Linked DNA regions of Homo sapiens: region 2 is linked to region 1. Evidence: fine-mapped expression QTL. A gene starts in region 1. The other region holds a variant in brackets. All regions are shown on one strand. Distances are between the middles of the regions.

Evidence for each region.
Region 2: its variant is fine-mapped to the expression of SCIN in subcutaneous fat (TwinsUK, PIP 0.95).

Annotation. Positions count from the first base shown.
Region 1 is chr7:12,560,113-12,576,834 of GRCh38, forward strand. SCIN (scinderin) reads left to right here and starts at 10,608. Exons shown (of 16, transcript NM_001112706.3): 1 at 10,608-10,873. The coding sequence starts at 10,675. LOC107986768 reads right to left here. Exons shown (of 3, transcript XR_007060635.1): 3 at 3,781-11,269. RefSeq lists an enhancer at 7,127-7,176.
Region 2 is chr7:12,592,032-12,608,753 of GRCh38, forward strand. It overlaps SCIN (scinderin), which reads left to right. Exons shown (of 16, transcript NM_001112706.3): 4 at 12,483-12,632. LOC107986768 reads right to left here and starts at 3,176. Exons shown (of 3, transcript XR_007060635.1): 1 at 2,891-3,176. RefSeq lists an enhancer at 3,607-4,806. The variant T/C (reference allele first, on the strand shown) is at 5,591.

The DNA.
Region 1 (16,722 bases):
ACATTTACTTGCTTAGATTATAACAAAAATGTCTTATATTTACTTATGAAAAGTCTAGAAATAAGAACTTTAAAAGATTCTGAAATATTATTGACCACTATAAGCCAAGATATGATCAAATGCTAAAATTATACAATGTTCCCAGAAGAGTAGATTAAATTAGTGCTAAAACACAATGTTCAATTGATTTTTAATTTTATGTGGAAAAATATGTTAAGCATTGCTAAGACAGAAAAAAAGCATTGAAGACCTGCCATAGCAGACATTAAAGGGAAACAAATAATTAGTGTGATATAAAAACGCATTCTACAGATAAATGAATAAATAAGTTAGTAGATTAAATAGAAGATTAAGAAACAAAAATTTTACATTTGATAAATATCTTTCAAATCAGTATATATACATGATTTAACAAATCTTGTTAATAAATGTGGTTATAAATTTAGATTAAAATTATATCTTTAAATTATGTTATAACACAAATATATATTTCAGATGAAGTAAAGATCTAAGGAAAAAATACAAAGTTTCAAAATTATTGCAATAGAGTATATGAGAATGTTATTTAACATCACCTTAGGAAAGCTTTCCTAAGGAGAAAACAAAGAAGGAAAATAAATGGTATGTTTGCAACCCATCTAAGAGGAAAAATTAGCATACTTAACACACTAACACAAAATATGAGTTTAGTCGATATATGTTCAAATAATATAGTAAGAAATTTCCAGAAGAAATAAAAATAGTAACAAATATATAGAAAAATGCTAAATTTCACTAATAACACAGAAATACAACTTTAAGAAAATGAGATATAATTTTCATGCATTAGACTGGAAATGAATTTTTAATGAAAAATTGTTAGAATTTAGTACTAAGATAAGGGAAATGGTCATTTTTGTCCACTGACTTAGAAAATATAATTTGGTGATATCCTTAAACCTTTAAAAAAAAATGAGTAAAACCGGCGAAACCCAGTCTCTACTAAAAATACAAAAAATTAGCCAGGCAAGGCCAGGCGCAGTGGCTCACTCCTGTAATCCCAGCCCTTTGGGAGGCCGAGGTGGGCAGATCACGAGGTCAGGAGATCCAGACCATCCTGGCTAACACGGAGAAGCCCCATCTCTACTAAAAATATAAAAAATTAGCCGGGCGTGGTGGCGAGCGCCTGTAGTCCCAGCTACTCAGGAGGCTGAGGCAGGACAACGGCATTAACCCGGGAGGCGGAGCTTGCAGTGAGCCGAGATCACGCCACTGCGTTCTAGCCTGGGTGACAGAGCGAGACTCTGTCTCAAAATAAATACATAAATAAATACACAAATAAGCCAGGGTTGGTGGCACGCACCCGTAGTCCCAGCTATTCAGGAAGCTAAGGCAGGAGAATCGCCTGAACCTGGGAGGCGGAGGTTGCAATGAGCCGAGATAGTGCCACTGCACCTCAGTCTGGGTGACAGAGCAAGACTCCGTCTCAAAAAAACAAAAAAACAAACAAACAAAAAAAGTGTAAATCATTTGGCCTAGAAATTCCACTTTTAGAAATCTGTCTTACAGAAATAGTAACGTGTACACAAAGAAAGATGTATGGAAGGTTATTAATGTATTATTTGAATTTATGCATGTAAAGCATCTAAAAGTACCAAAAGAAGGAAATTGCATATTACTTAATGCAATGGAATGCAAAGCCATTATTTTTAATGAGGTAAATCCATACATACTTACCTGAAAGAATGTTCATAATCTATTAATACGATTTTGTTTAAATGAAAGGTAGCTGGATGCTGATATGCATTCCAGTTTGGCTGAAGTACCTGTGGGTAGATGTGTATGTGTGTTTATGTATGAATAACTGTAATGTGCCTTTACTGAGCATTTTACTAGCTGGTAAGAACTATTTCAAGAACTTTATTTGTGTTAACTCATTTCACCTTCATAACAATCCTATCACATAGTACTCCCATTTTAGAGATCATAAAATAGAGGTGCAAAGTAACTTGCCACAGCATTGCTAGAAATCGCAGAACAGGAAACTGAACTCAGGACAGCTAGTTCCAGAGCCTGTGCTCTTAACCACTAATACAGAGAGAAATGGATGGAGGAACAGAAATGGTTGAATAGAGGAACAGAGATAGGCAGACAGACAGAAAGATAATGCATAGGCATGTCTATCAACTCAGCAATTTGAAAGGGATATCAAATTGTTAAAATGATATAACCTCCAAAAGATGGCATTTTAGGAGTCAATGATGGGCACTGACTTCTATTTTTTTTTTTTTTTTTTGAGATGGAGTCTTGCTCTGTCGCCCAGGCTAGAGTGCAGTGGCGCGATCTTGGCTCACTGCAAGCTCCGCCTCCCGGGTTAAAGCCACTCTCCTGCCTCAGCCTCCTGAGTAGCTGAGACTACAGGCGCTCACCACCACGCCCGGCTAATTTTTTGTATTTTTAATAGAGACGGGGTTTCACCGTGTTGGCCAGGATAATCTCGATCTCCTGACCCCGTGATCTGCCCGCCTTGGTCTCCCAAAGTGCTGGGATTACAAGCGTGAGCCACAGTGCCGGGCCAAGGGCACTGAACTTCTTAAATAACATAATACTTGTTAAAATAGAGAGCGAGCAAGAAAGACATGATTATGGATGAGTGTAATTGTTCTATAATTTTCACATAAAAATAAATGTCAAAATTATACAATTGAGTGATGCTACAATGACATGGAGTATTTCTGTGCCTAACAAGTCAGGGTTTCCCAAATGGAAGGATGGAACTTTCGGGAATTCTGCTTTTAACCCCAACCACTCAAAGAAAAGATATGTGTAGTATGAGTCCTAAACAAATTATAAATGGAAATGTACAGTATTATATCATGATCTTAATTTTGTGTAAAACGTTATCAGAGCATATCCCTAGGTTGTATGATTAGGGATAATTTTAATCTCATTTGTAATTGGTATTTTCAAAATTGTCTTCAGTAAACATGTGTAACCACAGCAATCAGAAAAAAATGCCATGTAGGTACTGAGATAAAGAAATGGTGGGAAAACAAAAAGAATTCTCCCTCATGTTTACTGCCCCAAGTATCCCAATGCCCTAAGACTTCCTGGGTGAAGCAAATTGCTCTCCATCTTTCTTTAGTAGGCCTCAGCTAGAAGTGTGAGTACCAGCTGTCCAGGGAATACTTGTTAAGCTGTTTATTTTAAAATGCTGTCATTTCAGGAGAGGAACTGGGTAGATACGGAGTTAATGAGGCTCCCTTTGCCAGCCTCAAAAGACACTGTTCTCTGAAGTATGTAAAATAAAGTATCTTCGGAAATCCTTTCAGTCAGTTTGCTTACTCCATAGAAGCCTGTGATTTCAAGCAAGCCTCAAGATATCAAGAGTAAAAGGAGTTACAGTCAAATTGCATAATTTCAACTCATATAAAGGGAGGTTGTGATAAAAAGAGAATTGGCTGAAGGAAGTTATTTCTGGCTAGCAGAAAATAATCTTCAAGCTTTAACTTTTAAAAACAACCTTCTGTTTGGTTTAAATGAATTAATTAACCTTATTTTTGTAAGTATCTTTACAACAAAATGATAATCTGATCATATCTGATTTCCATCATTTTCTATGGTTACACAGTTCTAGCATTCAAGTATTGTTGACTTAGTCCTTGAAAATCTGAAGTTATTTCTCACAAAGTGGTAATGCCAGGGCTACAAATAAGCAAGCAAAACAGAATAAATTGTTAATTGTGATTATTAGTAAAATAGAGACATTTAGAAAAATCAAGCAAAAAAGATGACACAGGCTCAAACACCATTAGCCTCAATTTTATTATATTTTAGACGATATGATCTCCATTTATACAAATATAATTTTAAAGGAAAAAAATACATTTAAATCATAAATTTTCATAAACTTTCATCCTCAACCTTTCTTTTGGTCATAAGCATTCTTCAATGTATAAACTTCTAAAGTAATGATAATGTCTTCTGTAAATAATCAAACATGGGTTAGAAATTGCTTTCATAATAAAATACTGCATGACAGTATTCAGAAGAAATGTCAAATCAACCAACTATGACCTGCTGTAGTAAGTAGGTTTACAAAAATGGACCATATATCACACCAGCAGACATTCAACAGCAATAAAACCTTCACTTTAGTACTGAACCTTGGACTATGATAGTTCATGGCTCAGTATTACTTTATAGTTATAGTGTTATGTGTAGTTTAAAAATAATTGACTTATGAAAGGGAAGGTCCAAAATCCTGATTGAAGCTTTTTTTTAAATGAATGCTTTTTTGGGCCAGGCGCGGTGGCTCATACCTGTAATCCCAGCACTTTGGGAGGCCGAGGCAGGCAAATCACAAGGTCAGGAGATCAAGACCATCCTGGCTAACATGGTGAAACCCTGTCTCCACTAAAAAATACAAAAAATTAGCCGGGCATGGTGGCAGGCGCCTGTAGTCCCAGCTACTCGGGAGGCTGAGGCAGGAGAATGGCGTGAACCTGGGAGGCGGAGCTTGTAGTGAGCCGAGATCGCGCCACTGCACTCCAGCCTGGGTGACAGAGCGAGACTCCGTCTCAAAAAAAAAAAAAAAAAAAGAGTGCTTTTTTTTCTTAAGCTCTAGTTTGTTTAGAATGAGTCAAAAGGATAAAAATACACTTCCCTGGAATGTATTTTCACTTCTAAGTGAAGCTTTGATAGGTACTGGGAAAAAGGGTGCTTGCTGATTATCAACTGACTTTGTTGATTGTGTGCTTAGGGCTTTGACATACATAATCTCTTTTAATCCTCACAATGCTCAGGTCCCCTGATTCCAGGTTCCATGCTTATACCCTCAAATAATTTGGTAAAACAAACGTTAAGTTATTACAATTTAGCAGGACTACCACTAAAAGAAATGTATTTTTAATTACATTATTTCATTATTTACATAACAAAAAGAAAGCAAATAAATAGCACATTCAAAGCATTTACCTCTCCTGGGGGAAAAAAAAGTGCAGTCCCTGTCTTTCGTATGTTTAGTTTCAACAATTCTGGGATCACGATGCAATGATATAAATAAAATGTCTCTCAACTCTGAGATTCTATCCCTGAGGAATGAAGATCGCTTGAAGCTGATTCATTTTTCCCAACCCATTTTAGTGAATTGCACAATACATCAATTATATTATTTGACATTGTTTTTTATTCAGAAGAATAACATATGCAACATTCCCCTCTAGGTATTAATATTCTAGAACACTTACCTTGAGTCCAATCACATTGGCCCCAAACCTCAAACCTCCTGACTCTTGGTAAAGACTTATTCACATTGGGTGTTTCTCCTTGGACTCAGGTTTGTAAATTGATGAAAATATAAATGTAATTTAATGTAAAACAAACAATTCAATCATATCTAGTCAGCATGTATTACCATAAAGCCAGGGAATCAAATAATGAGTCATGAATCTCTAAGTGAACCTTCAAACTTGAGAGAGAAAACACACTTCAGAGTGTGGGAGCTGCTATGATGTAAGCAGATCTGGAGTGCTGGGAGCACAGAGGATGCTGGAGTTTAATGGATCCGGGGGAATCATGACCCTAAGGAAGCAGACTTTAAAGAATTAGGAACTTTAACAGACAGATATGGAAGAAGGGCAATAACACAAATGGAAGGAAATTATTTACTTTTAGGAAACTAGGGTATGAGAGAGGAAGAGAAAATAAAGGCCTGGAAAGGAAACTGGCACTTGGTTTTGGAGACGATTTTTTTGTGTAGAAAATGGGCAGTCCTTATCTGGACTCTGGAAACATTATTCGTTGAAGATTGAATTTGGAGAAATGAATTAATCACTTGTTAGTCTCAGTGGAGTTTACTGCCACTTCCTATGTACCAGGTACTTTTCCAGGTTTATATGTATTTATCCATTTAATCCTCATGACAATTCTACAAGGAAATTTCTGTCAGTATCCCCATTCCACAGATGAGAAAACTGAGACACATAATGTTTAGTAACTTGCCCCAGCTCAGTGAGCTGAAATGGGGGAGAACAAGGATTCAACCTAGGTCAAAGCCATATTTTAAGTTAGGCCGCTTAACTTTCACTGCATGTCTCTACTGAAGATCAGAGGAGGAGCAAGAGAGTAGGCTACTAGGGATGGATTGGGTTGTTGATTGAATATGGAGATAGAGAGTGTTAGGTCAAAATTAAATGATGCTGTTAGTGAAATTAGAAAAAAATAGAAGTATGTTTGGATAAAACGATAAGATTGTTGTGAGTATGTTGAACCTGACCTCAGCAGGACCAATCAGGTAGCTATATCTATCAGGGAGTTGGAAGTTTAGATCTGGAGCTCACTTAGCCAGGAGAGGACTAGGGTCAGGAGAGTGAGGCACTTGCCTCATGCACAAAATTAATAGGACGAAAAAAAAGAAAAAAATAAATCAAGTATTTTAGTATATAAAATGGTATTTCAATGCAGCACTTTTTTAAATATCAAAATGCCAAAACTATTAACTATCAAAGTGGTTTTTTTGTTTGTTTTGTTTTGTTTTGTTTTGTTTTGTTTTTTTGAGACGGAGTCTCGCTCTGTCGCCCAGGCTGGAGTGCAGTGGCGTGATCTCGGCTCACTGCAAGCTCTGTCTCCTGGGTTCATACCATTCTCCTGCCTCAGCCTCCCGAGTAGCTGGGACTACAGGCGCCTGCCACCACAACTAGCTCATTTTTTGTATTTTTAGTAGAGACGGGGCTTCATCGTGTTAATCAGGATGGTCTCGGTCTCCTGACCTCGTGATCCGCCCACCTCGGCCTCCCAAAGTTCTGGGATTACAGGTGAGCCACCGCGCCCAGCCCAAAGTTTTAAGTAGTGGAAGGATCAGTACTTTTCCTTTGTCTCAGCCTGTACAGCACTATTAACAATCCTGTCTCTATTTGAAATGTTATATCATGATATTTTGCATTAATTTTGAGCTTTAAAATATCACCTTAAAATAGTATTTATCTTGAATGCTACTTTGTTGTTGTTTTTTGTGCCTCTTTAACTTTTACATCCTAGGCATCTGTCTTACTTGCCTCACACTAGCTCTGGCCTAACCTAGAGGGAATTTCACTTTCATCTATGCCAAAGCTTCTTTTTATTTCTTCAACAAAGAAATGATCACTGAAATTGAAACTGAAATTGAGACACCTCTGGTTTTTAAATTATCTTAAGTCTAGAGCACCAGTTCTTATATTTTTTTTCGTCAGGAGGAAGAGAACACATGATTTCAGTCTACAGATAAGGAAACTGAGACCTAATGGCTCAAAGTTAAAACTAAGTTTCTTAGTGCTGCATGGGACATACTAGATCAGAAGCTTCTCTAGATACAACCTTGAAGAAAATAAAATTATAAAGTATGCTTCAGGGAAAAACACCTGGCCAAATAATTTAGATTGAAAGAATACGTTTTTGGGAAGAGCAAGTACTTTTGAATGAGAGAGAGAACTTGAATTCCCTTTGGCTACTCATCAGCTGGGTGACTGACCTACGGCAAACTCCAAAGCTTCAGTTCCCTCATCAATAAAATGAGGCTTCATATCCACCTCTCACTGTTTTGGTCAGGAGACAAAAAAAGAATGTAGCTAATAAAATTTATCCATCAGGATCTCAACTTACAACAGAGCATGCATGCAAAATAGGAAAATTCCAGGAGATTTTTAGGAAGCTATATACAAAAGAACAGAGGCAGAGAAAACAAAAGGAATAAAACATGTGAGGGGAGAGTTGCTATAACCCAACAGGAGACAAAAAGTCAGACACAGTTATTCGCCTTTAAAAGAACAGTGACTTTTTGCTGAAGGAGCCAAGGAAATAAATACTCCAGCCTCACTCTCTTTTCTCCCTCTGGTCTCCAACCAAGCCTCAAGCCAGAGGACATCAGAGCCCACTTGATTTAGCTCTTGTAGATCAACCTCAAGGGAAGGTGGAAGGGTGCAGGATAGAGAAGATATCTAAAGGAGCAAAAGGAAGCTCACCACCACATAAAAATTGTTCCTAATTATTGAGTGTTTTCTGTGTAACAGACACAAATACCTTATATGTGTCGACTCATTTAAACCAAATAATCTTATAAGGCAAATATTATTATTTTCCCATTTTAGAGATGAGGAACATGAGGCTGGCTGTGTGTAGTTAAGTAACTTCCTGAAAGTCTCAGAACTAAGGATGAAAGCAGGAATTGAATCAAGGTAATGTGTACTATAGCCTGTTATTGTCAAAGATCAGTAAGTGGTAGTAATTGGTTTCATAATTATCGTCACTACATAAAAGCTATTTAATCCCAACCAATTATATTTCCAGGGTTTTATCTCAATTATAATACTGCGAATGCATAATAAAGTATGTTCAATATGCTATTTGTAACACTGTATTGGCAAAATATACACAAAATTTAAATGCCTAGTGTTGGGGCTCAGAAACCAATACCACAAAATGTGACACTTTGACATGCTGAAATGAAGAAGGCTTAAGTTTTCTTTGACCTTCCTTCACCAATCCTCTCTTTCCCAAAGCACAGAATGAAGGTATTCTCTGAAGTTCCCTTATCTGCCTAAAGTCTCGACTTGCCAAAGAAGAAAACAGTTACCTCTGGTCTCTTCCCTGACTTTCCACAAACTGAACTCATATTGCAGAAAGAAAGACTGAAGTCTGTCAACACACACGGAGAGCTCTGCAGGCTTAACATACTTTGTCTCAGGCCACTGTATGTTCTTCAAACACATTGAATTCCCCTAAAAATCATTTTCTAACCCCCCAAATCACCCATACATCACCCATCTGCCTTTCCTCTAATAAGGAGGTACAACCCTCTGTACCTCATTGGGATATTGGCCAATCACTCTGTGATTCTCCCCCATGCCCGCTGATAAATTTGTATGCCATTTGTCCTGTTAATCTGCCTTTTGTGACTTGATTTTTCAGTGAAACTTCAGAGGGTAGAGGGGAAGTTTTCCCTTGGCCCCTACACTATGAACTGAGATAGACAAAATAAATTAGTATGTTTATAAAGTGGAATACCATATGGTCAGTAAAAACCGGTAGCTCTATGAGTACTGTGTGTTGATACACAGACACACACACACACACACACACACACACACACACACACACACACACGGGGGGGGATTCGAAAAGGTTATATGTTACATTTTCTGTTAAAAATTTAAAATAACTACATTACCTATATTCTTGTTGACAAAATTTGAGTGCCTGGAAAAATACATAAGAAACTGGTAACGTAATTGCCTTTGGGGAAAGCAACTGGGTGGCAGGGTGAAATGGAGATAATTTTTTATTGCACACATTTTGTACTTTTAATTTTTTTACCATGGTCATGTAATAACCTATTAAAAACATAATTTAATTAAGGAAAAAAATCTAATTTTGCATTATTATTGACCTTCCAGGGATTCATGTAATTTGAGAAATTGAATGAAAACAATTTTACATGCATGAAATTCAGCTTTCTTACTCTATACATCCTGAGTGATTTGCCTTTTTCAGTAACAGAATCCTTTGCTATACCAGCTTGTTAAATGAATGCCAAATCAAGAGTAAAATTTCCATCTGTATTCCATAGTGTTTTAGCCATGCTGCAAAAGCAAAACCTGTAGGTAAAACAAAGAAAATTATCACCTTGAAGCTAGGTAACAGGTAACCCAGAAGTCCGGCCAAGCATAAAATTACAGCCACAAACAGCCCTGCAGAGAACATCTCAGGACGGCGGCTGCTGGGTTTTTGTTGTTGTTTTCATCTTTCTTGGCCAAAGGAAGCAGGTGTTAAGAGAGCTCAACCACAGCTCCTGAACTCTGAGATTTACAGAGCTCTGTCACCTGGGGTAATACTGCCATTCTTCCAGGTTTTCTTCCTGTCCAAGAAATCTGACATGCTGTTTTTCATGGTATTTTCAAACTGGAAGATCGAGACAGAAACTTTGGTCGTCAGGAATGCAGAGATTGCCCAATGAAATGACAGAATTGATCATTAGGATGCTTGTTACTCAAAAAGCCCATTTTTTAAAGAAGGATGTATTAAAATTATTCCAGCATGCTAATGTGGCACACTCCTCTGCTGCCTAACGGCAGGTGTTGCTATTAGCAGAGGAAGCCTTGTTCTAAGAATTATTCTAGAGGGCCAGAAAGAACAGGTATTGCTCCACCCGAGTAAACGCTGACTCAACTCTGCAGGGCTGGCGCGCTCTTTCCTCACCTCACCCCTCCTGCCAGGCACAACTGAGATCCAGAAATAAGAGGATTAGCGAGAGAAGGGGAAATATGCAGGACGGTAGTGATGGGTATGCACAAAGGAGTGCCAAGCAGTTTTAACCGTTAATGTTCTTCGTCTATTGCTAGAGAAAATGTCTTTCCTTGGAGGAGGCATTGGCACGAGTTACTATAAACTCCCTCTGAATCTCAAGACTTCTGGGACGCCGATTCCGCTCCTGGCCTGGGGCAAGGCGTGGGAGCTTGGAAGCCAGCGCTGCGCTCCCCGTGGGAAGCGATCGTCTCCTCTGTCAACTCGCGCCTGGGCACTTAGCCCCTCCCGTTTCAGGGCGCCGCCTCCCCGGATGGCAAACACTATAAAGTGGCGGCGAATAAGGTTCCTCCTGCTGCTCTCGGTTTAGTCCAAGATCAGCGATATCACGCGTCCCCCGGAGCATCGCGTGCAGGAGCCATGGCGCGGGAGCTATACCACGAAGAGTTCGCCCGGGCGGGCAAGCAGGCGGGGCTGCAGGTCTGGAGGATTGAGAAGCTGGAGCTGGTGCCCGTGCCCCAGAGCGCTCACGGCGACTTCTACGTCGGGGATGCCTACCTGGTGCTGCACACGGCCAAGACGAGCCGAGGCTTCACCTACCACCTGCACTTCTGGCTCGGTAAGGGACGGCGGGCGGCGGGACCCCGACGCACCAAGGCCGGCGAGGGGAGGGCGTAGGGGTCTGAGATTTGCAGGCGTGGGAGTAAAGGGGACCGCAAACTGAGCTAGCCACTCGCGCCCCCACGGGGCTGCCCTTTGGGGCCGGCCACTTTCTCCCTACCGAAGTCAACTCGCCGGCTGCAAACGCGGGGCTCAGGCGTTGTCCGCAATTGACTTACCTCGCAGGCTTTGACCTTTGCCAGGTGTAGTTCCTGGACTTTGGAGCTGGTGACTGGCTTCTTCCCCTTTCACCGTCAAGTATCCAAACGCCACTCTTGTCCAGGGCCGCTGCCTCAGCGCACACCGTCTCTGGCCAAGCCCCGCTCACCTTCCGACAAACTCAGTCCTGCTTTCCCTGTCGGGATGGAGAGGAAGTCATAAAGTCTGGGGGCATCTGCCGCCGCTAGGAAGAAGTCCTTTTCTTTTTCTTCACACATTATTTTTATTTGTTGCTTTCGGGCACTGGCTTATTTTCTCTATGATTGCGGGAATTATTGTTCTGGGCTTCTTTAAAACAGGATTCTACCCGCACCATGCTGCTTGTGGGTCTGGTAGACAAAAACTCCGCTTCATTCGGAAGCTGGCGTCCTCAGATAGAAGTAAGAAAAAAATACAGATATTTTATATACAAATAAATAGCTCTATATGGGTATTTCATATATTTATGTAGACTGCTTTATTGTTATTATTTATTATTTATTTTAGCAAGGACACAAGATGGAACAGAAACGGCTCCTTCAGCAGTAGTAATTATTTTGAGCTGCGTTCGTGCCAGGCTGTCAGGACACTGGGCCTTGTGTGTTCTTTTTCCACCTTCTACTTTTACTCATAAACATCCTGAATGTCCAGCCTCTCCCCAGGAGGTCTTGTGCCAGTGGGCACACCCTGTCTAACAACATGCCGATTCTCTGAGCCTTTTTGCCTTCTTTTAAAACTAGCTAGCCTGCCCAGTACTCGTGTTTGTTTAGTTTTATCCCTGAGCTTAGGAGGAAAACACACAAAACCACACACACTTACACATTTTTGAGTCCCTGAAAGCCAACACTGTAATTTCCAACATTTGAAGATTTTAAGAAACAAAATAATAGAAAACATTGAGTAGTGACTGTCTAAACATTGGCAAACACCTGGAACAGGCATTTGAGAAATGAGAAATGAAAAATACGTAGATGAAGATAAGACTTTTAATTATAACATTTGGAGTCAAAAATTTGTGTTAGCTTGAGGAGGCAGAGAAGGCTCAGCCTGAGTTCTGAACACATTTTGGCTTCTTGATGCATTGCTGTTATTCCTATTATAATGTTGTAATACACAGTCATCTATTTGTATTTTCTGCCAGAAAAGACTGAAACTTTTATAACCCATGTTCAAGAATGAATGATGCCAGATAGAATAATGATGTCCTTACAGAGGACTTTCCATGCAGAACTTAAATCTAGCATGAATGAAAGTGTTTGAAATGCCACATTTGCCATTTGAGTAAATTAAAATGTGAAATAATGCCATATCTTACTGTAGACAGCAGTTAAGTTTGACTTTGTCAGATGACCGCAAGGGAGATTTGAACACAATTCTTTAATTCTATACATTTTTATCCAAGTTGTCCTCTTAACTACTATATTTTGTAGGGTTTACAGATTCACCTTATTCACTTAATTATCTACTTAATTATCCACTTGATGCCCATAAATTTCAAAAATATAATAGAAAATGGTTTGGGCAGAAACATTTATAATCTTAAAGACATGCTAAAACTGAAGTCAATAACATGTTAATAACAAGCAAATTCATTCAGTAATTATTCAATATGGCCAGTACTGTACAAGGCACTTGTGGATATGAATAATTAATGAAACTTCTCTAAAAGTTCATCACCTCAAAGGTGCAAAAAGACAAAAAGTGATATAACACAGGTAGAATGTGATAATTACTGTGAAAGCACAAAGTTTCTGTGGTTATTGGGAAACAGAAGCCTTTAGAGAAAAAAAAAATGAGAGTACTTGGAAGTGTTCTTGTGTCAAGAGAGAATTATGGAGAGAAAAAAAGCTTCAAGTAAAATAGTCAACAGGACTTTCAGATGGGATTGCCCAACAGCTCTTCCTACTTCAGTTCCCTAAGAAAACAGAATTTCATCCAAAATAGTGTAGTCTAAGACCTAAATTAGGATGAATCCATGAGGATTCATCAGAGAGACAGATTGAGAGAAAGTCACAGGAGAGAGAGCTGAACTTCCAGGGGAAAAGAACATTTGGTTAAAGGAAATCAGCCGGAAGAAAGAGAAACTAAAGTTAAACTGAGATGAAAAAAGGTGCATAGCATAGAAATGAAGAAACAGGCCAAATGGGAGGCAAAAAGGGGAAACAGGAAGAAGTTGGACCTAGAACAAGAGAGAACAGAGCAGGAGAGTCGTCTTTCTTGGTCTCTCCCTCAGTGTTTCCATAACACTTGGCATATCTCAGATTATTTTATTGTATTAACATTACATGCTTGAATGTATTAACATCATATGCTTAAATGTAATGAAAGTAAAAATTTATTGCAAAGAACTTAAATGTTATTGCATTAGCCCTTCTTTAAAAACATTTCAGCTTTGCACCTAGCAGTTTAAATGCATCCATTCACCTCTGTTTGTAGTTCCTTATAGCACCAAATCAATGGGTAGGTCTAGATAGTAAAACTGCTCCCTGTCACATCCCTAACCTAAGGTACAAACACTTATCCTCACTCTTTCTCTTTGCCAGTTTTAAACTTCACACAAATATATTTTAAAGCAGTATACATTTATGTTATAAGTGGGCTATACCAGGCCTTGTGCAATGCCCTGGGAATCCAAAGGATTGGATTACAATATACGATACAAAGAACTTATACGAAGGACTGGCTAGAAACTGGATCATTTACATTGCTGGAGCATGGGGGTGGGTACATGCAATGGTACAGCACTCTGGAAAAGAGTTTAGTAGTTTCTTACAAAACCAAATATACTACTACCATATGAGTCAGCAATTGCATTCATAGGTATTTATTCCAGAAAAATGAAGTTTTGTATTCACATGAAAACCTGTACCTGAATGTCCACAGCAGTTTTATTTGAATAAACAAACACTAGAATCAGCCCAGATGCTTTTCAACAGGTGACTGGTTAAACAAGTTGTACATCTGTACCAACTAATACTACTCAGCAATAAAAAGGAACAAACTATTGATACATACAACAACTTGGATGAAGCTCCAGGGAATCATGCTGAGTGAAAAACCCTAAGAGGCTTTATACTGTATGATCCCATTTATATAAAATTTTTGAAATGACAAAATTTTAGATTTGGCATTGCCGTTGGTTACAGATAGGGTGAAGAGGGGATGATGTGGGCAGGAGAAGAGTGTATTATAAAAGGGCAACTTGAAGGATGTTTTTGGTGGAACTATACAGCATCTTGATTGTGATAGCAGATGTATGAATTTACACATGTGATAAAATTTTATAGAACTAAATGCACACACACACGAGTACAAGTAAAACTGAGAAAATACGAATAAAATAGGTGGATTATATCAATGCCAATATCCTGGTTGTGGTGTTCAGTGCTATACTGTACTATACATTAATATGTTAAGCTATACTGTAATTTTACAAAGTTGCCACTACTGGGGGAAATTGGGTCTATTGATCTGTGTCTATCCTTCAATAGTACCAATCTGTTTTAATCACGTTAGCTATGTAGTAAACCTTAGTATCAGGTAGAGTGATTCCCCCCACTTTATGCTTGTTTGTCAAGATTATTTTAGCTATTCCAGGGCCTGCGCCTCACTATATAAATTTTGCAATAAGCCTGTATATGTCTATAATAAACCTTACTGTGATTTTGGTAAGAATAACATTAGGCCTATAGATCAATTTGTGAAGGATTGACATCATTATTATGTGGAGTCTTAAAATCCATGAACACTAAGCGTTTACATTTACTTAGGTCTTCCTTGATATTTTGAATGCCATTTTGTAATTTTCAGCATACAGATCCTGTACATGTTTTTAAACTATATGCCTGAGTATTTCAGTTTCTTTGGAGTGATTGTCAATAGCATTGCGCCTTTAATTTCAGTTTCAGCATGTTCATTGTTTCTATATAGAAATGTGACTGATTTTTTGTATTACTGATGAATCTTGTATCCTGCTAATTTGCTCAATGTACTTTTTATTTCTAGGAGAGTTTTCTTTTTTTTTTTTGGATAGGTCTCTTAGAGTTCACTATGTAAACAATATTGTTGTCTCTAAATAGAGACCTTTTTATTTCTTCATATTCAATTTGTATGCCTTTTTTTTCTTTTTCTTACTTTATTGCAGTGGTTAGAACTTGCTGTACTATGTTGAATAAGAGTGGTGTGAGTGCACACCCATTTTCTGGATTTTATGGGAAAAACATTTAGTCTTTTACTGTTCAGCATTGCTAGCTCTGTGTTTTTTGTTGACTCTAATTATCGTTGGAAGGTGTTCCTCTCTATTCCTAATTTGACTTATTTTATTTTATCATGAATGGCTGTTGGATTAACCTAGTTTTAAATCTCTCTTTTTATCTATAAAATCATTACATCCACAAAATACTTATAGAAATTCATAGGATGTACACAAGTCTAACATAATATAAAATAACACGGCACAGCATAGTATAACAGAACATAAAAGACACCGGTAAAATCAGTGTAGGGAAACAACAAATGGAAATCATAAGCAGATTCGTAGGGGAAAACTAAACTGATTCTTAAGCAGACTTTATACACAAAGTTCATAAGTTTCTAAATACTTTCTGGAATTCCATCATGCTACAACTGGATTTGATTCTAATTTTCGCATCCAAAGGCTGACATTGGCTTCATCAAGACCGTCAACCTCATTCAGGCATCCTGTTTTATTCATACAGATATTCCCTGGCCAACCACATTACATAAGCATCAGCAAATGATAGGATAATTTAATTAACTTACTTTCAGTTCATTCATTAACTTCATGCCTGTCCATTTACATCTACCTAAAGAGATTCAGGTTTCAACCTGTAGTCAGGTAAGGACGTTTATGTCAAATACATCATCTTTAACACCTTTGATGTTAACCTTGATTCCAAGTTATCTCTTAAAGCATCTCTCTTAAGGCATCATAAAAATCTACATCTACATCTTTATGGTATTCTCAGTTAGGGTTCGGATCCCAAATCGGCAGAAGAATGACACCAGAGTCCTTTCAGATTGCAAAATTGCCGGTGTGTCAAATACTTAACTTTGACCACAGCGAGTTCACAAAATTGTTATCACGTCAAGTAATCTTCTAGCTACTGAGTTGTTTTTTTTTGTTGTTGTTGTTGTTTCCCCTCAGAAGATACTTGGTATATGAGTCTCATTTGAGAGTAAGAGGGAAATTGTAAGGAAATCTGATTCTTTCTTTAATACAACTGACTGATTTGCCTTCTTCAACTTTGGTGAATACTGTCAGTTAGGGTTGTTCATGTGAACTATTAAATTATTACAGCTTCTAAGCTTTTATGCATCAGTTATCTATGGAAGAAATTAACATACCTTGTCACTATAAAATTGTACCGCTAATGAGAGCCTGAGTACAAAAAAATACCCACAAGTGTACTGGAGTTTTTAAGAACCTGTGCTTCAGAGTCACACAAACCTACATCTGGTCTTTTTCTCCCAAAAGTTGCTTTATGACCTCAGAAAAGTTACCCAGCCTCTCTAAGCCTCCATTTTCTCTGTTCCAATCTAGTAGAAAATAGGTTCTGCTTTATGAGGTTGCTTGAAGATTAAATGAGA
Region 2 (16,722 bases), 32 kb after region 1:
CTAGAGCTTGTCCAAAGAAATGAGGGCTATCCCTGAAGCCCTGAGGGAGGACAGTCCATGTGAGTTGTTGTGACTGGAGGGTGTCAGGGTCAGTCCAGGTGAAAGCAAATAGGTTTTGGGAATCAGGGTGTAGGGAAATGGTAAAGAAGGCATCCTTCAGGTCAATTGCAGTGTAGAGGGTGGTGTTGGTAGCGACGAGAGAGAGAAGTGGATAGGGGTTATGGACTATGGGATGAATAGGGAGGACAGCTTGACTGATGGCTCGGAGGTTGTGAACGAGTCGGTATGAGCCATCAGACTTTTTAACAGGGAGGATAGGGGTGTTATATGGAGAGTGTGTTGGTCTAAGAAGACTGCATGAGCAGAGCTTGTTTACGATGGGCTGTAGGCCCTTTTGGTGGGTTAGAGAGATGGGGTATTGAGGAACATTGGGAAATTTGGAAGAGTCTTTTAACTGGATTCTGATGGGGTCATGGTGAGCAGCTACGGAAGGGTTAATGAGAGAGGCAGGAAGTGGGTACTGGGGAAAGGGGTCAGGGGCCGGACTAGCGGAGAGGAGCAGGAGGGGACTCTGGTTGAAGGGGGCAAGAAAAGGTGATAGAAGCTTTGACTTTGGCTAAAAGGTCTCAGCCTAGAATGGGGGTGGGGCAATGAGGCATGATAAGGAAAGAGTGTGAGAAAATGGCATCAAACAGGGAACAAGTAAGAGGTCTGGTGGCAAGCGGACAAGAGATGAGTCCGTCAACCCCCACAACTGAGACTTGAGAGGGATGAGTGGGTCCTGAGAACTCAGGCAAAGCTGAGTAGGTGGCCCCACTATCAATTAAAAAAGAGATCAGCTTACCTGCTACTAGTAGAGTTACCCTGGGCTCCGATGCAGTGATGGCAGTGGGGGCCGGGAGCCGGGGCCCAGGGGCCCTGGCCTCATCAGTCTTCAGTGGCTAGGCCAAGGAGCTATGGGAGTGCAAGTGATTCTTCACTTTTTGTCTTGTTGAAGGGATGGTGGCTCTGAGGAGCATGCTTGTCTGCCCATCTGTTGAGAGGACAGTCAGACTTCCAGTGCCCATCTGCTGGCAGACTAGGCAAGGGCTCTTCGGCACTCATGGGTGGGGACATGGCCCCGTCCAGTGGCCTTCTTTGCCGCACTTAAAACAAGGCCCAGGAGGTTTGCTGCTATCAGGTCTTTTGTGCCCTTGGGTACTATGGCTAGACTGACAGATAGCCACTGCTGGAAGCTGGTATTTAGCACGATCTCTTTGGGCTTTATCTAATTTATTTTGCTCGTCCCTGTTATTAAAGACTTTGAAAGCCAGGTTAAGGAGGTCTTGTTGTGGGGTTTGAGAGCCATCTTCAGCCTTTTTAAGTTTGTGCCGGATGTCAGGGGCAGATTGGGAAATAAAACGGGTATTAAGAACAATAGTTCCTACATATGTAACAAACCTGCACATTGTGCACATGTACCCTAAAACTTAAAGTATAATAATAATTAAAAAATAAATAAAATTTTTTAAAGAAAGAACAATAGTTCCTTCTCAGGAGGCAGGGTCGATGCGGGTATATTTTTGGAGAGCTTCTGTAAGGCGGGAAAGAGATTGGGCAGGATTTTCATCTGCCTTTTGGGAAATGTCTTTAAGTTTTTCAAAATTTACAGCCTATGGGCAGCTTTGTTAAGGCCTGCAATGAGGCAAGTAATCATATGGCTACAGTACACTTGGCCAGGGTCTGTGGGTTGGTATTCCCAGGAAGGCTCTTCCCAGGGAACAGCAGCAGCTCCTACGGGCTTAGTAGGATCCTGCTGATGAAGGTCATCGGCATATGCCTGTGCTGCGAGCCACACTCTTTCCTTCTCTTCTGGAAGGAGGGTAGAAGAGAGGATAAAGTAGAGATCATGCCAAGTGAGTTCATAAGATTGAGTAAGATATTTAAATTCTTTGATGTAAGTATCAGGATCGGAGGAGAAGGACCCGAGACGTTCTTCAATCTGTAAGAGATCGTAGAAGGAGAAAGGGACGTGGACATGGACGATCCCCTCAACTCCCGCTACTTCCCGGAGAGGAAGCAAGGGAGCTGGTTGCTGAGCACATTGGGCCCGAGAGCGGGTGAGGGGAGGAGGCAGAGAGGACTCAGAGTCAGAAGTGGGTTGGTTGGAGAGAGTGGGGGAGAGGGGTAGAGCCGGAGCAGGGACATACGGTGGAGGATCATGATGCTCTGGTGGAGGATCATGATGCTGTCGAGGAGGGAGAAAATCCACGGGGTCAAAGGAAGAGGAGTCATCGGCTGGGTCTGTGGGTGGGGTGACGGGAGATGAGTCAGGTTTTGAGCTGGTGAGTAGGATTTGGAAAGTAGAGCAGGAGTGGCAGAGAGAAGGGTGGTTACGGAGAATGAAGAAAGCCTGAATATAAGGAATCTCAGACCATTTCTCATTGCGATGGCAAAAGTTGTCTAAGTCTCTAAGTATATTGAAATCGAAAGTGCCATTTTCGGGCCATTGGGAGCCATTGTCCAATTGGTATTGAGGCCATGCAGTATTGCAGTAAAAGATAAGCCTCTTAGAACGGATCCCTGAACGGAGGCCGAGAGCCTTGCGATTGCGGAGGAGACACCCAAGGGGGGTGGTCTTGGGAGGGGTAGACTGAGAGGCTCCCATAGTGAATGGAGGAGGTGAGGGTAGAGGAAGAAGGGACCACAGACGACAAAGACGAGAGAGGGCGGCGCCTGTCTTGCAGGCCTTGTATGGAATAGAGGAGGTAGCTGCGGAGTCAGGCGTCCAGGAAACAGAGGAACCAGAGGCCTGGAGGCCAGAGGAAGCCCTTGGCCCAGCGCTGGGTCTTTTGGGAGTGAAGAGATGGTCAAGGGTTCCAGGTAATAGGCAAAAGTCTCTCTTACTCACCCCTCTCAGAGGCTTTGATGGTGGATGAGGTGGCCAACAATGGGAGAATTTTGGGAGATCCTTAGGGTCTTTAGCAGGTTCGGGAAGGGGAGGTTGGCTGGGTAAGGGATGATAGGAGAGAGAGAGAGAGAATCCTCTAAGGACGCCCAGCCAGAGCCTATCCCCTTCCTGGGTTTTGGCACCAAAATGAAGGTTAGCCAAGAGAAAGGATGAGAGAGAGACCCAAGGTCAGGCGAGTAAGCTTATTATCCTGCTGAGCTGCTCCACCACAGTCAGAGGAGGCAGCGCTGAGCTTACAGAATGACGGGTTTATATGGGGCAGAGAGACCCTGGGGTTGTTTGTGAGTTAACTTTACCACATATCATCTTGTGACCAGGTTTCAATATAGGAATTTACAAGAGGGCGTAACTTAGGTTTATCCACGTTTCTCGTGACCTCCCCCATGCTGCCCGTAGGGCTGTAAGCAAGTCTGGTGACCTTGCTGTAGGCCTAGATAAGGATCCAGGAATGCAGCTGCAGAGTATTTGGGGTAAGAGTCTGTTGCATTGGGGTGGGGGGAGGGGTCCTGGGGCAGATTGTTCCTAACATTCCAGCCTTTTAATAGGTAATATAAGAGGGGCACTGTTGTCATCTGGCTGCTTCTTGCTGGATAGGGGCAATGGTTGAGGGGAGAGGAGCAGGCACTAGGAAAGACAACTCTTAAGATGTTACGATTTGTACTTTAATATTCAGCCATAGCTTCACATTAGAATCATTTGGAAAAGTTTTTTAAAGTACTGGTAACTGTGACTTGACCCCTGAAGATTCTGATTTTAAAGTTTTGGAATTTGGTGTTTGGACTTCTTAAGACTCCTTCCCTCCAGGATACCATAACATAAGGTACACTGAATGTTGTAAATCACTTCAAGAAAATGTCTAAAGATGCTGGACAATTCAGGGTCGTATTGTTACCAGTAGAAGGTATCCAAATTACCAGTGGCAAATCCATATGGGTCTGCAGCAACCTCAATTCTTACCTCCTCAGAAGAAAGAATTCGACTGACGGGCATAAGGCAGACAAAGAGACCAAGACAAGTTTCAGAGCAGGAGTGGAAGTTTATTTTTAAAGAGCTTAGAACAGGAAGGAAAAGAAAGGAACGTATGCTTGGAAGAGACCCAAGCAGGTACCAAGGTCAAGCGCGGTGTTTACTTTGATCCTAGGATTTTATAGATTCCTTTCCCATGATTCTTCCCTTAGGGTGGGCTGCCTTCATGTGCAGTGCCCTCCTTACCCTTGGGAGGTGAGAATATGCAGTGTGTCTAGGAAGTCGTACACATGCCAACCTGAGTCTTTCTTCCTTTTTCCAGTGGCGTGTCCCCAGAAGGTCATACTCCACCATGTTGTCTCATCTTGCACATCCCCAAGAAGTTGCTTCTCCCTGACGTCTGCGTTTAATTAAGTGCAATAGGTGTGGACCATCAGGAAATGGCCTCCCTGATGTCTGCATTCACTTTAGTGCAACAGGTGTGAACCTTCAGGAAATGGCCTCTTTCTGGTGCCAGCTGCCAATTTATCACTTTTAGAGAGGCAATGTGATCATTGCTGAACCATCAACTGACATTCCTAGTGGTTGGGGGAGGGCCCTCTCCTGCCCCACTCATGCCTGCGTAACTACCTGTAACAATACGCATGAAGAAGCAGTAACTCTTGATGTTGATTGAGCAGTTGAGTCACCAACTTAGGTGGCTGGCAGAAATGCTTTTTGTTAAAGTATGACTGTAAGCTTTTTTTTTTTTGGTTTGGCAAACACTTTGAGTAGTAAGAGAATATAATTTCACCTGTGCTCACTGGTGCTACGCAAAGATCCCTCCCAAAACTGTTCATCTGGTCCTGATGAGTGGCATCACTACCAGCAACCAAGCTAGAATTGTCCAAGTCATTTTCCTTTTCCCTGTCCCTCTACTGCACATCCAAATGGCATTATTGACCAATCCTATAGGCTTAGACCTTCTAAATATTTATTTCTCTTCTCTCTATCACCACTGATCTGCCCTAATTCAAATGTAGTTGCTTCCTTTCTGGTCACCAAGCCTTCAGTGGCCCTGCACACCACTCCATTCATCTTGTGTCCTTCATTCAGAGGTAGTTTGAAAAACACACACAATATCTTTCAATACATACGTAACTGAAGGATATTGAGTTGAGCTGGCTTTGAGGAGACAACAAAATAGATATAAAGAAACATTTGTTTATTCAAAAACGAGATGTCATATTTTAAACTTTTAAAATAAAAAAGGTTCGTGGAGTTATCTCACAAATCATTGTTTTTAAACTATACTTAGAGAACCTCTAGGCTAAAGATACATCTTAATGAATTTCTATATTTGGGTAACTAGATCTAAGGGAAAGCTAAACACAGGAAAGACAAAGCCAATAGATGCCAGGAAGAGGAAGAAGTCTGGCCTCACGTTCTCCTTTAATCAGATTTTAGATGTATTTAGAATAATAACTTAGAAAAGGACCAAAGAGCAGCAAGCCTATGCTGAATTCCTTGCACATGTTGAGTCAACATCGCATAGGCTGTTTTGGGTGCTCCTTTAAACACAGCCTCTGAAATCTTGCTTTTCCTCAAGGGCACCATTGAGCATTGTTTTACTTTTGCCCTTATTTTCTGTCCTCAAATGATGTCTGGCTGCACTTATTAACTCAACACATAGTT[T/C]AAAGAAATTTTAGAAACCTCTGATTTTCAAGACCAATAATAGGACTCCCCTCCCCAAATGTGGTTGTTTCTATAAATATAACTTGCTTGCTCTTATTTCTTGTAACTAGTGGACCAGACTAACTGCCAGTAACAGATTGTATTTATAGTCTCATTTCTTCCTTTTCCAATTGTGCAGAATAATTTTGTTTTTCTTTAATAGTTTGTATATTAAGAGTTAATTATAGTTTCACAAACTTCTGCTAGAGGATGTTCATATACAATATGTACATCAGCTTTCTGCCAGAATTTAAGTGGATTTCATTCCAAATTATTTATAAATGGATAATTTCATATTTACAGGGCTTTTTTAAACATTGCTTCCCTAGAGAAATATGATATTTAGTGTTGAGTTGTTAAATGCCTTAAGATCTTAGATGGTGAAATAGTTGCCCCTGAAACTGTTTGCTTTACAATTTTCAGTGTCTAGCATACTTAAATCAAGTCAATGAATGGTTTTTAAACTAAATTCTGTTAAAGCATTATACATAAAATAACTTAGATTATAGTGAAAACTTTCTGTTGTAGTAATAGGTATTTACCTATCACATTTATTCAGACTTTTTTTAACTTTATGAAGGAATTTATTTTTTAAGCCTACTCCCTGGTGGAAACAGAGTAAGGTGAATTAAGAACAGAGTTTTTTTCAAGCATGGTGCCAAATGAATACAAAGTTTCCTTCTGCCAGAGTGGTGAAGTAGTCATAACTAACTACCTCTGAATAGAGTAAGTGTTGGGCCGCACAGTTTATTAATAAAACTACACACACTTACTTCAGCACAGTAGAGCTCTGTTAAAATGAGATGTCCTAAACACACTATCCACACATGGTGGAATATACATTTTCAAATTTGATGAAATACTAAAATTGTGTTTTTAAAGCAAGTTTTAATGTACTGCTGCCACCACTGAATGAACATTTAATTAGATTGAATAAAAACAGTGTTATCGGCCTGGCACAGTGGCTCATGCCTGTAACCCCAGCACTTTGGGAGGCCAAGGCAGGCAGATCGCTTGAACCCAGGACATCGAGACCAGCTTGGGCAACATGGTAAAACCCCATGTCTACAAAAAACAAAAAACAAAAAAACAAAAAAAGTTCGCTAGGCGTGGTGGCACATAGCTGTAGTCCTACCTACTCAGAAGGCTGAGGCAGGAGGATTTCTTGAACCTGGAGGCAGAAGCTGCAGCGAGCCAAGACTGCATCACTGCACTCCAGCCTAGGTGACAAAGCCAGACTCTGTCTCAAAAAAAAAGAGAGAGAGAAAGAAAAAAAAACAGTGTTTTAATTAATAATGACTTGTCAAGCATTCTGACTTTTAGCCATTTACAATTAAAGTTATTATTTTATTAAATTTTTTATATCAACCATTGAAAAGTAAGTCTACTAAATAGGAAAATATATCACTCGTATGTAAATAGTGGCATAAAATAAGGTGAAAATAAAAAAGAGAACACAGGTCATTCATTTTCATGCTGAGTAAGAAGTTTTCTGTAACCACTTTGCTTAGTAATTTAGTCACCTTTGAGGTAAAAAGAAAACTTGACTTTTAAATTCTGATCTACTTTTGATCTTTCACTTTAATGTAAAATATAATTATTAGAAGTCTGTATTCTCAGACTTGCAGAGAAAATAATCACTTGCAAAATATCATGGAATAAGATAGGAAGAGGAATTTTAGCAAAACACTGCTTTGTATTTCATGGTGAGTGTGTGTGTGTGTGTGTGTGTGTGTGTATCACATTTTCTTTATCCACTCATGGATGGGCATTTGGGCTGGTCCCATATTCTTGCAATTGTAGATTGTGCTGCTATACACGTGTGTGCAAGTATCTTTTTTATATAATGACTTCGTTTCTTCTGGATAGATACCTATTAGTGGGTTTGCTGGATCAAACAGTAGATCTACTTTTAGTTCATTAAGGAATCTCCACACTGTTTTCCATAGTGGTCGTTAGTAGTTTACATTCCCAGCAACAGTATAAAAGTGTTCCCTTTCACCACACCCACACCAACATCTGTTTTTTTTTTATTTTTTCATCATGGCCATTCTTGCAGGAGTGAGGTGGTATCGCATTGTGATTTTGATTTGCATTTCTCTGATGATTAGTGAAGTTGAGCATCTTTTCATGTTTGTTGGCCATTTATGTATCTTCTTCTCAGAACTGTCTGTTCATGTCCTTAGCCCACTTTTTGATGGGATTGTTTCTTGCTGATGTGTTTTTGAGTTCTTTGTAGATTCTTGATATTAGTCCTTTGTCAAATGCATAGTTTGCTAATATTTTCTCCCATTCTGTGGGTTGTCTGTTAACTCTTGATTCTTTCTTTTGCTGTGAAGAAGCTTTTTAGTTTAGTTAAGTCCTATCTATTTACCTTTGTTTTTGTTGCATTTGCTTTTGGGTTCTTGGTCATGAAGTCTTTGCTTAAGCCAATGTCTAGAAAGGTTTTTCCAATGTTATCTTCTAGAATCTTTATGGTTTCAGGTCTTAGATTTAGGTCTACTCAGCCATAAAGAGGAACGAAATAATGGCATTCGCATGCACCTTGGATAGAATTGGAGACTATTATTCTAAGTGAAGTAACTCAGGAATAGAAAACCAAACATCATATGTTCTCACTTATATGTGGGAGCTAAGATATAAGAATGCAAAGGCATAAGAATAATACATTGACATTGGGGACTCAGGGGAAAGGGTGAGGGATGGTGAGGAATAAAAGACTGCACATTGGGTACAGTGTAAACTGCTCGGGTGATGGGAGCACCAAAATCTCAGAAATCACCACTAAAGAACTTATTCATCTAAATAAATGCCACCTGCTCCCCAGAAATCTATTAAAATTAAAAATTTAAAACAAAAACAAAGATACGTGTAGGAAAAAATATTCTGATTTATAGGGTCAATGTTTTTCTGTCATGAGTCAAGTATAAGTAAAATGTTTTCAAAACAAAAACATTAGTTTGGGCTCAGCAGAAAAGTCTACTGAGTTGCACTGGATAATTAGATGTTACAGATTCCCTGTTGTGCACAAGTGTGGTGTGCTCAGAGTACATCACACTTGGCACACACTGGTTGAATGCTAGAATCACCTGAGGAGCTTTTAATAAACACAGCTGCCCAGAACACACCTGAGATTTCCTAAGGATAGGGCTCACATCTCTGTATTTTTAAAAATTACCTTGCTACTCTATTATCTGATTTTAGTGCTCAGTGGCTAAGAGTTGACTTATCACTGGGAGCCCTTTATTTTTACTCTTTGTAACTGCTAACTTTGTCATGGTATTCAAATGACCTCCACATGTATGCCTCATATTCCAATGCCCAGATGTAGAAAAGAGGTTAAAAAGAAGCAATAGAAGTGCACTATTCTTTTAGAAATAGGAAAGAAACACCCTTTGACCATACTAAATAACTGCATTCGATTCTTGAGAGAAGGAGATTGCTAGACGTAGTCCTTTTGATTTTATTTCTTATAAAGTTTTGCATTCCTAAAATGTGTATTTTATTCTTAAAGAGGACCGTGGATTAGGTCATCAGGAATGTTAAGCGGGGGTCAGAGAGACTATTGCAAGCCTACTTTGTTCAGAATGGTGCTTCCAGTACCTACAGGAGAGGCTGCCCCATTTTAGTCACTCAGTAAACCATTTTTTGAGTGAAGAAATGACTCTGGGCTGGAAATTTAATCAGAGAAGAATCCATTTCTCTGGATGTTTTATTTTGCTATTTCTAATTTATTTACTCTTTTGAAAAATTGCAAACACACTATCAAATACCCAGAAAGTGGCAGCCTAGGTCCATTTCCCTCACACTTAACCACAACTCTACATGGTTGACTAGATGAAACGTGTGTGGGAGTGTTGTGAAAACCAAGCACAGTGCAAATGTATTATTAGCCAATTTTTCTACCAGTCCACCTCTCCTTGCTAGTTTTTTCTTAATTATCTCTGTATCCCCAGCATAATAAGCAGTGAGTAATGTATGTGACATAAAAACAAACAAAAAAAAATCACTGACTTAGATACAGTAAACATTGAAGGCTTTCTTTCTGCATATGCATGCCCTCTGAATCTCTTAAAACTGTTTATCATTTTTTTGTGCAAACACAGAGCCAGAGCTTGTGTTTTTGTTTCTACTTAAATGTAATTATATTATTCTATGTCTTTATTGTATTCTTGATGATATACCTTCACTAATTTTCTACATCAGTATTTAAACATTTTTCTTAATTTTTAACTACTGAAGAGGAGTGGACAGGACTCATGCAATGACATTTATGTAGCCATCCTCTTATTGATGGGCATTTGTTTTGTTTCTTATTGGGGGAAGTCGGTAGAACATGAGATTCTTAATCTCAGGGTCCTGGGTTTAAGCCCCAGGTTGGGAGCCAGATATCGGCGGAACCCGCTCCCAATGTTTCAACATAGGTTCTTTCTATTTTCCATAAGCATCAGCTGGCTGAGAAATAAAGAGAAAGAGTACAAAGAGAGGAATTTTACAACTGGGCCTCCAGGGGTGACATCACATATTGGTAGGACCATGATGCCCACCTGAGCCTTAAAGCCAGCAAGTTTTATTAAGGATTTCAAAAGGGGAGGGGGTGCAAGAACAGGGAGTAGGTCACAAAGATCACATGCTTCAAAGGGCAAAAAGGAGAACAAAGATCACATGCTTCTGAGGAAACAGGACAAAAGGCAAAACAGAACTACTGATAAGGGTCTATGTTCAGCTGTGCACGTATTATCTTGATAAACATCTTAAACAACAGAAAACAGGGTTCGAGAGCAGAGAACTGGTCTGACCAAAAATTTACCAGGCTGGAATTGCCCAATCCTAGTAAGCCTGAGGGTACTCCAGGAGACCAGGGCATATTTCAGTCCTTATTTCAACCGCATAAGACAGACACTCCCAGAGCGGCCGTTTATAGATCTCCCCCAAGGAATGCAATTCCTTTCCTAGGGTCTTAATATTAATATTCCTTGCTAGGAAAAGAATTTAGCGATATCTCTCCTACTTGCACGTCCATTTATAGACTCTCTGCAGGAAGAAAAATATGGTTCTTTTTGCCCGACCCTGCAGGCAGTCAGACCTTATGGTTGTCTTCCCTTGTTCCCTAAAAATCAGTGTTATTCTGTTCTTTTTCAAGGTGCACTGATTTCATATTGTTCAAACACATGTGTTTTACAATCAATTTGTACAGTTAACACAATTATAGTGGTCCTGAGGTGACGTACATCTTCAGCTTACGAAGGTAATAGGATTAAGAGATTAAAGTAAGGCAGGCATAAGAAATTATAAGAGCATTATTTGGGAAGTGATAAATGTCCATGAAATCTTCACATTTATGTTCCTCTGCTGTGGCTCCAGCCAGTCCCTCCGTTTGGGGTCCCTGACTTCCCGCAACAGTTTCTTTTGTTTTTATATCCCATGTTCGAATATTTCTGTAGTATAGATTCCTATAAATGGAATTTCTTGTTATTAAAAGCACATTTAATTTTTTTTTTTGAGACAGTGTCTCGCTCTGTCCCCCAGGCTGTAGTGCAATGGCATGATCTCCGCTCACTGCAAGCTTTGCCTCCCGGGTTCACGCCATTCTCCTGCCTCAGCCTTCTGAGTAGCTGGGACTACAGGTGCCCGCCACTACACCTGGCTAATTTTTTATATTTTTAGTAGAGACGGGGTTTCACTGTGTTAGCCAGGATATTCTCAATCTCCTGACCCACGATCCGCAAGCCTCGGCCTCTCAAAGTGCTGGAATTACAGGCATGAGCCACCATGCCTGACCTTAATTTTTTTATAATGATGCTAAACCACCCTTAAAAAACCTGTGTCAGTTTATACCACCCAAATAGTGGGTGATAATGCCCACTCCCACAGCCACTCCAGGTCTGGGTATTATTCAACTTCTCTTTCTTTCTTTTGGTAAACAATGTTAATGGAGGAGGTAATTTTTCATTATTATTTTACGTTTGTATCCTTATACCTTCTGGACACTATACCAAAATCTACAATCTAAAATATATAGTAGTTTAATCTAAATGGTAGCTAATATAATCTCTACTATATGTCACACTGTTATTCTGTTTCGACTTTTTCATGTTTCGATGTTAAAGTTTAATTTTAACAGTTAAGTATCAAATTTTCCCTATATATCATAATTTATATAACTATTATCCTATTCTTGAACAATTAATGCCTTTCCAAGGCCTCACCAATATAATTACATAGCAACGAAAACCCTTATATGTGTGGTTTTTTTCTCCTTTTATGAATAATTTATTAAAGTAAATGCCAGATAGTGATATTACTGGGACAATATCACTCTTTTTATGGCTCTTGATAAGAATTGTTAAATTGCTTTACATATATTAATTATCTTGATTCAGCCATTCCACAATGTATACATATATCAAAACATCATGTTATACACAATAAATACATGCAACATGTATTTGTCAATTTAAAAACATGAATAGTTTTACAAAAATGTTATATCCATTTTATGATCATCAAGAGTATCATATTTTTACAGATTCTTTACTACTTTTCTGAAGTGTGGTATATTTATTATTTCAAATTTAATCCATATGTTTACTTTTATAAATTGTAATTTATAGATTATATACACAGAGAATGGTGATATATATATTTATATTTTCCATGCTTAAAAACTGCTTACTTTGTAATGCTAACTGAAAGCAGCAGGATGCAGAATGAAGTGTAACAATTATGTATATACCTCAACAATAGGTCATTTAATTTTCCTTTTTCTTTCCTAATTAATCACAAGTATTACACTGAGGCTGAATGTCTTCCTCATATTCTTAGGGTCAACAGATCTGTCTCTTTCTTTTAGGAAATTTATCAGTGGTGTGGTTCCTCGTGCAACAAATATGAACGTCTGAAGGCAAACCAGGTAGCTACTGGCATTCGGTACAATGAAAGGAAAGGAAGGTCTGAACTAATTGTCGTGGAAGAAGGAAGTGAACCCTCAGAACTTATAAAGGTATTGTGACTCCTGTTGTTTGTTAAAGGGTTACCACTCCAACTCGTATGTGTCTGTGTGGTGTGTGTGTGTGTGTAAGGCAGCAGGGTGGGGAAGAAGGGGAAAGAGATTCAACACATGTTTCAATAGTGAGCCTAGCTACAATTAGTAAGAGGAAACAACAGGGTTATCTAAGTGATGGAACTGGGAAAACAGAAAGTCATGACTTTCTCTTACCGTTGGTGTCACTATCAAAGGAGCCCTGGGCCTATCTTCTATAGTATATGAGGTGAAACAAATGAGTGACACTTCTGAAATTGACCGTAAGAATGTATTTTGGAAGGAAGACAATATTAATAGTTCTTTCATCTATTCATCTGGGCTTCTCAGGGTTTTACTTGTTTTTTGTTTTTTTGTTTTTGTTTTTGAGACGGAGTCTTGCTCTGTCGCCCAGGCTGGAGTGCAGTGGCACGATCTCCACTCACTGCAAGCTCTGCCTCCCGGGTTCACGCCATTCTCCTGCCTCAGCCTCCCTAGTAGCTGGGACTACAGGCGCCCACCACCATACCTGGCTAATTTTTTGTATTTTTGGTAGACGCAGGGCTTCACCATGTTAGCCAGTGGTCCTGATCCCCTGACCTTGTGATCCGCCCGCCTTGGCCTCCCAAAGTGCTGGGATTACAGGCATGAGCCACCCTGCCCGGCCTTCTCAGGGTTTTTTTCAAACACGGTGGTTTTCTTCAATTTTAAAATTAACAGTTGCAGGTTGAGTATCCCTTTTCCAAAGTGCATGGGACCAGAAGTGTTTCAGATTTTGAATTTCCGGGGTATTGGAAATATTTGTATATACAAAATGATATATCTTGGGGATGGGAGTCAAGTCTAAACATGAAACTCATTTATGTTTCACATACACCTTATATGCACAGCCTGAAGATAAATTTATACAATATTTTAAATAATTTTGCGCATGAAACAAAATGTGTGTTAAGTACTTGTGGGTGGAATTTCCACTTGTGGCATAACATCAGGACTCAAAGTTTCAGACTTTGGAGTATTTCTAATTTCAGATGTTTGGATTAGGGATGCTCAACTTGTATTTCGTTAAAGGAATTAAATACAATCTTATACCAAGAGATTAAATATGCCAGTATTTAAAATATTTCAATCATTTTAAGCTAAGAATTATACGCAACACACTTATGATTTTAGTGTAGTTCTTAAATTAATGTGAAAATTAAGTGTTCATGGCTCTATAGACCCTGCATCATTTACTTAACGATTATATGAATCTTAGGCATTTGGTTGTGACCAAACTTTGTCTTTTAAGAATATTGCAGTGACTACCTAAGTATATATATTGTATATATTCCCTTAAATAAGACTGTCAGTTAAGGAGTATAACTATATTAAGATGTCTTCATACGTATTCACAAATTAATTTCCATTTGTTCATACAACAAATATTTATTGTACTCCTGCGATGCGCCAGGCACTAAATGTTTGCACCAGTTGCTACTTCCTTGTACGAGCACTGTGTTCCATCGTGACTTTACAGAGCCCTGTCAAAATCTGTTGATATAATACCTTTTTGAAACTTCTGCGTTTAATAGTGGTAGGTGGTATCTCTGAGTTTTCATTTCTCTGATTTCCTGGAATATTATACATATTCCTCCAGTAATTTTAGATTTGCATTTAAATCTATCTAAAGGCTATCTCATAAACATTTTTAATATTTTTGACTTACAGAAATTTAATGCAGTAGTTACATGGTCCAGTGATAGCCTAAAAATCCAGTGATCAGAAATTATATGAAATAACTTTATGTATTGTAATGTCTTTAAACTTTATTGCTTTAATAATGCCCAGACACAGACTTTCACATTAATGATGTTTTGGAAATAATTTTAATTCAGTGGGGAAAATTCTCATGGTATAATACTAGGAGAAAAGACAGAATATAAAATTTTATATGCAATATTATACTAACATATAATATGTGTATATAGCTCTGTATTCATACATATGTACATACCTAGAAAATTGTGCTAAAATATTACCAGTATTACATCTTGGGATGTGGCTGCTTATTTTCTTCTTCATTTGTCTTTGTTATAATTAACATATATGATTCATTTTATAATCAGAAAAAAAGTCCATTTAAAAAATTAAGATAAAATTAGGGATGGTTTTACTGGATTTTCATTGGTTAGAATAACATAGCTAATAAATCAGACTTTGAAAAGTATTCAAAACAAATTCTTGATCTTTTAATATTCTTTTAAGGCCTCTGTTCTAGAGATGGGATCAACCATGTAAGTCTTCTAACTTGGCATATTTGGAAGCAAAAATCTATAAATAAGATGTATTTCTAGTTGACTGTAATCCCTTGTCTCAATAGCTATGCTTGGATAGAAGCAGATTCAGGAACAGGACTTGCCTTGTGAAGTGGTAAGAAGAGTGTTACATTAACTATCGGACATCACTCATGCTTCTCCAGGGTCACCCTTGGCCCAAAGCAAGTCTCCTGACTATTCATTGTGTCTGATTCCTCATATGCAAAGTGAAGGGTTAGACAAAATGGCTTCTCCAGTCCCTTTAGGTTCTAATGATCTATCCTTCTACCTTACCTCTTGGGCAGCAGCTGTGTTTAATTACCACTCATTTGCCACTTGTAGTCTGTTCCAGGAAGTGATGCTGCTGCAGCTGAGGGGCCCTGCTGGGCATGTACATATGTGGTGTCCTGGCTTATTGGATTTCATTCAATGTTTCGAAAAAGAAAGTGTAAACAGTCAATACATTACACTGTAAAATTAAAATAAGAAAAAGCAAATGAAGAAAAACTGTGCAAAAATATAATTTGGCTTTAAAATATTAGTGATAAGGATAAAGAGATATAATGCTTAAGATAAAATGTGATGTCTGTGTTTCCAAGACTCCTCAGTTTGGTTTTTAGAAAAATCCTACAAAGCACCCACTTTGTTTTCATTCAATACATTCAGTGTCTATACTACATTTTATTTGACTGCTTTCACTCACACAATGAACTGAGATGAATTTTCAGTGAAAACCTTTATTAGATAAGGAAAAAAAGCATTCAGTGGTCTTTTCGCTTTTGGAAATGTAGTTTTGTAGCCTGATTACAAGAAAGAGTAATTATTTGATTAATTAATTGAGCACCTATAACAAACTTGTTTGACTTCTAGGCTTTCTTAGTGTTGTAATGATAAGGATAGAATACAAAAAGCCCATGAACTTGGTTGGGAAGAATTACAACTTTATTTTCACTAACCTCTTAACTGAAATACGGCCTTTCCTCCAATTGTGAAAGTAATAAGCAAACGTGAGTAGCAGGAACAGTACTGTGACTTTTCAGCTCACATTATAGCTATTGTACACAACCTCAAAATACGTTTATGCTCATTGCTACTTGGTAATTATTATTGTTATTAGATCTTCTGCTCACTAGTATTTAATGAGTTAATGAAAAGCTCATATATTACTTTACCAAACTTTAAAATATGTATTTTGATATTTTAATAGCTGCATTTCAATGTAATTTATTTCCATTATAATACTTTGTATCTTGTTTTATGCATTTAGCAAATATTTTTCTTAGAAGGGAACTAATAGGTTTCAGAAGTGTTCCAAACCAGTCTATACTATGCATGCACACATGCACACACACACACACACACACACACACAGAGTATCCTTGTTTAAAATTTGAAAATGTCATTTCTTTTTCTGAGACCCTGGTGCAACAGTTGATTTTACTAGAGATGGAGTCTGAAAATCTAAAAATTTTTCAAATATATTTTAAATTGAGGTTTTATTTATTTATTTATTTTTTGAGCTGGAGTCTTGCACTGTCACACAGTCTAGAGTGCAGTGGTACGGTCTCGGCACACTGCAGCCTCTGCCTTCTGGGTTCAAGTGATTCTCCTGCCTCAGCTTCCCAAGTAGCTAGGATTACAGGCACCCACCACCACACCCAGCTAATTTTTTGCATTTTTAGTAGAGACGGGGTTTCACTCTGTTGGCCAGGCTGGTCTCAAACTCCTGACCTTGTGATCCGCCGGCCTTGGCCTTCCAAAGTGCTGAAATTACA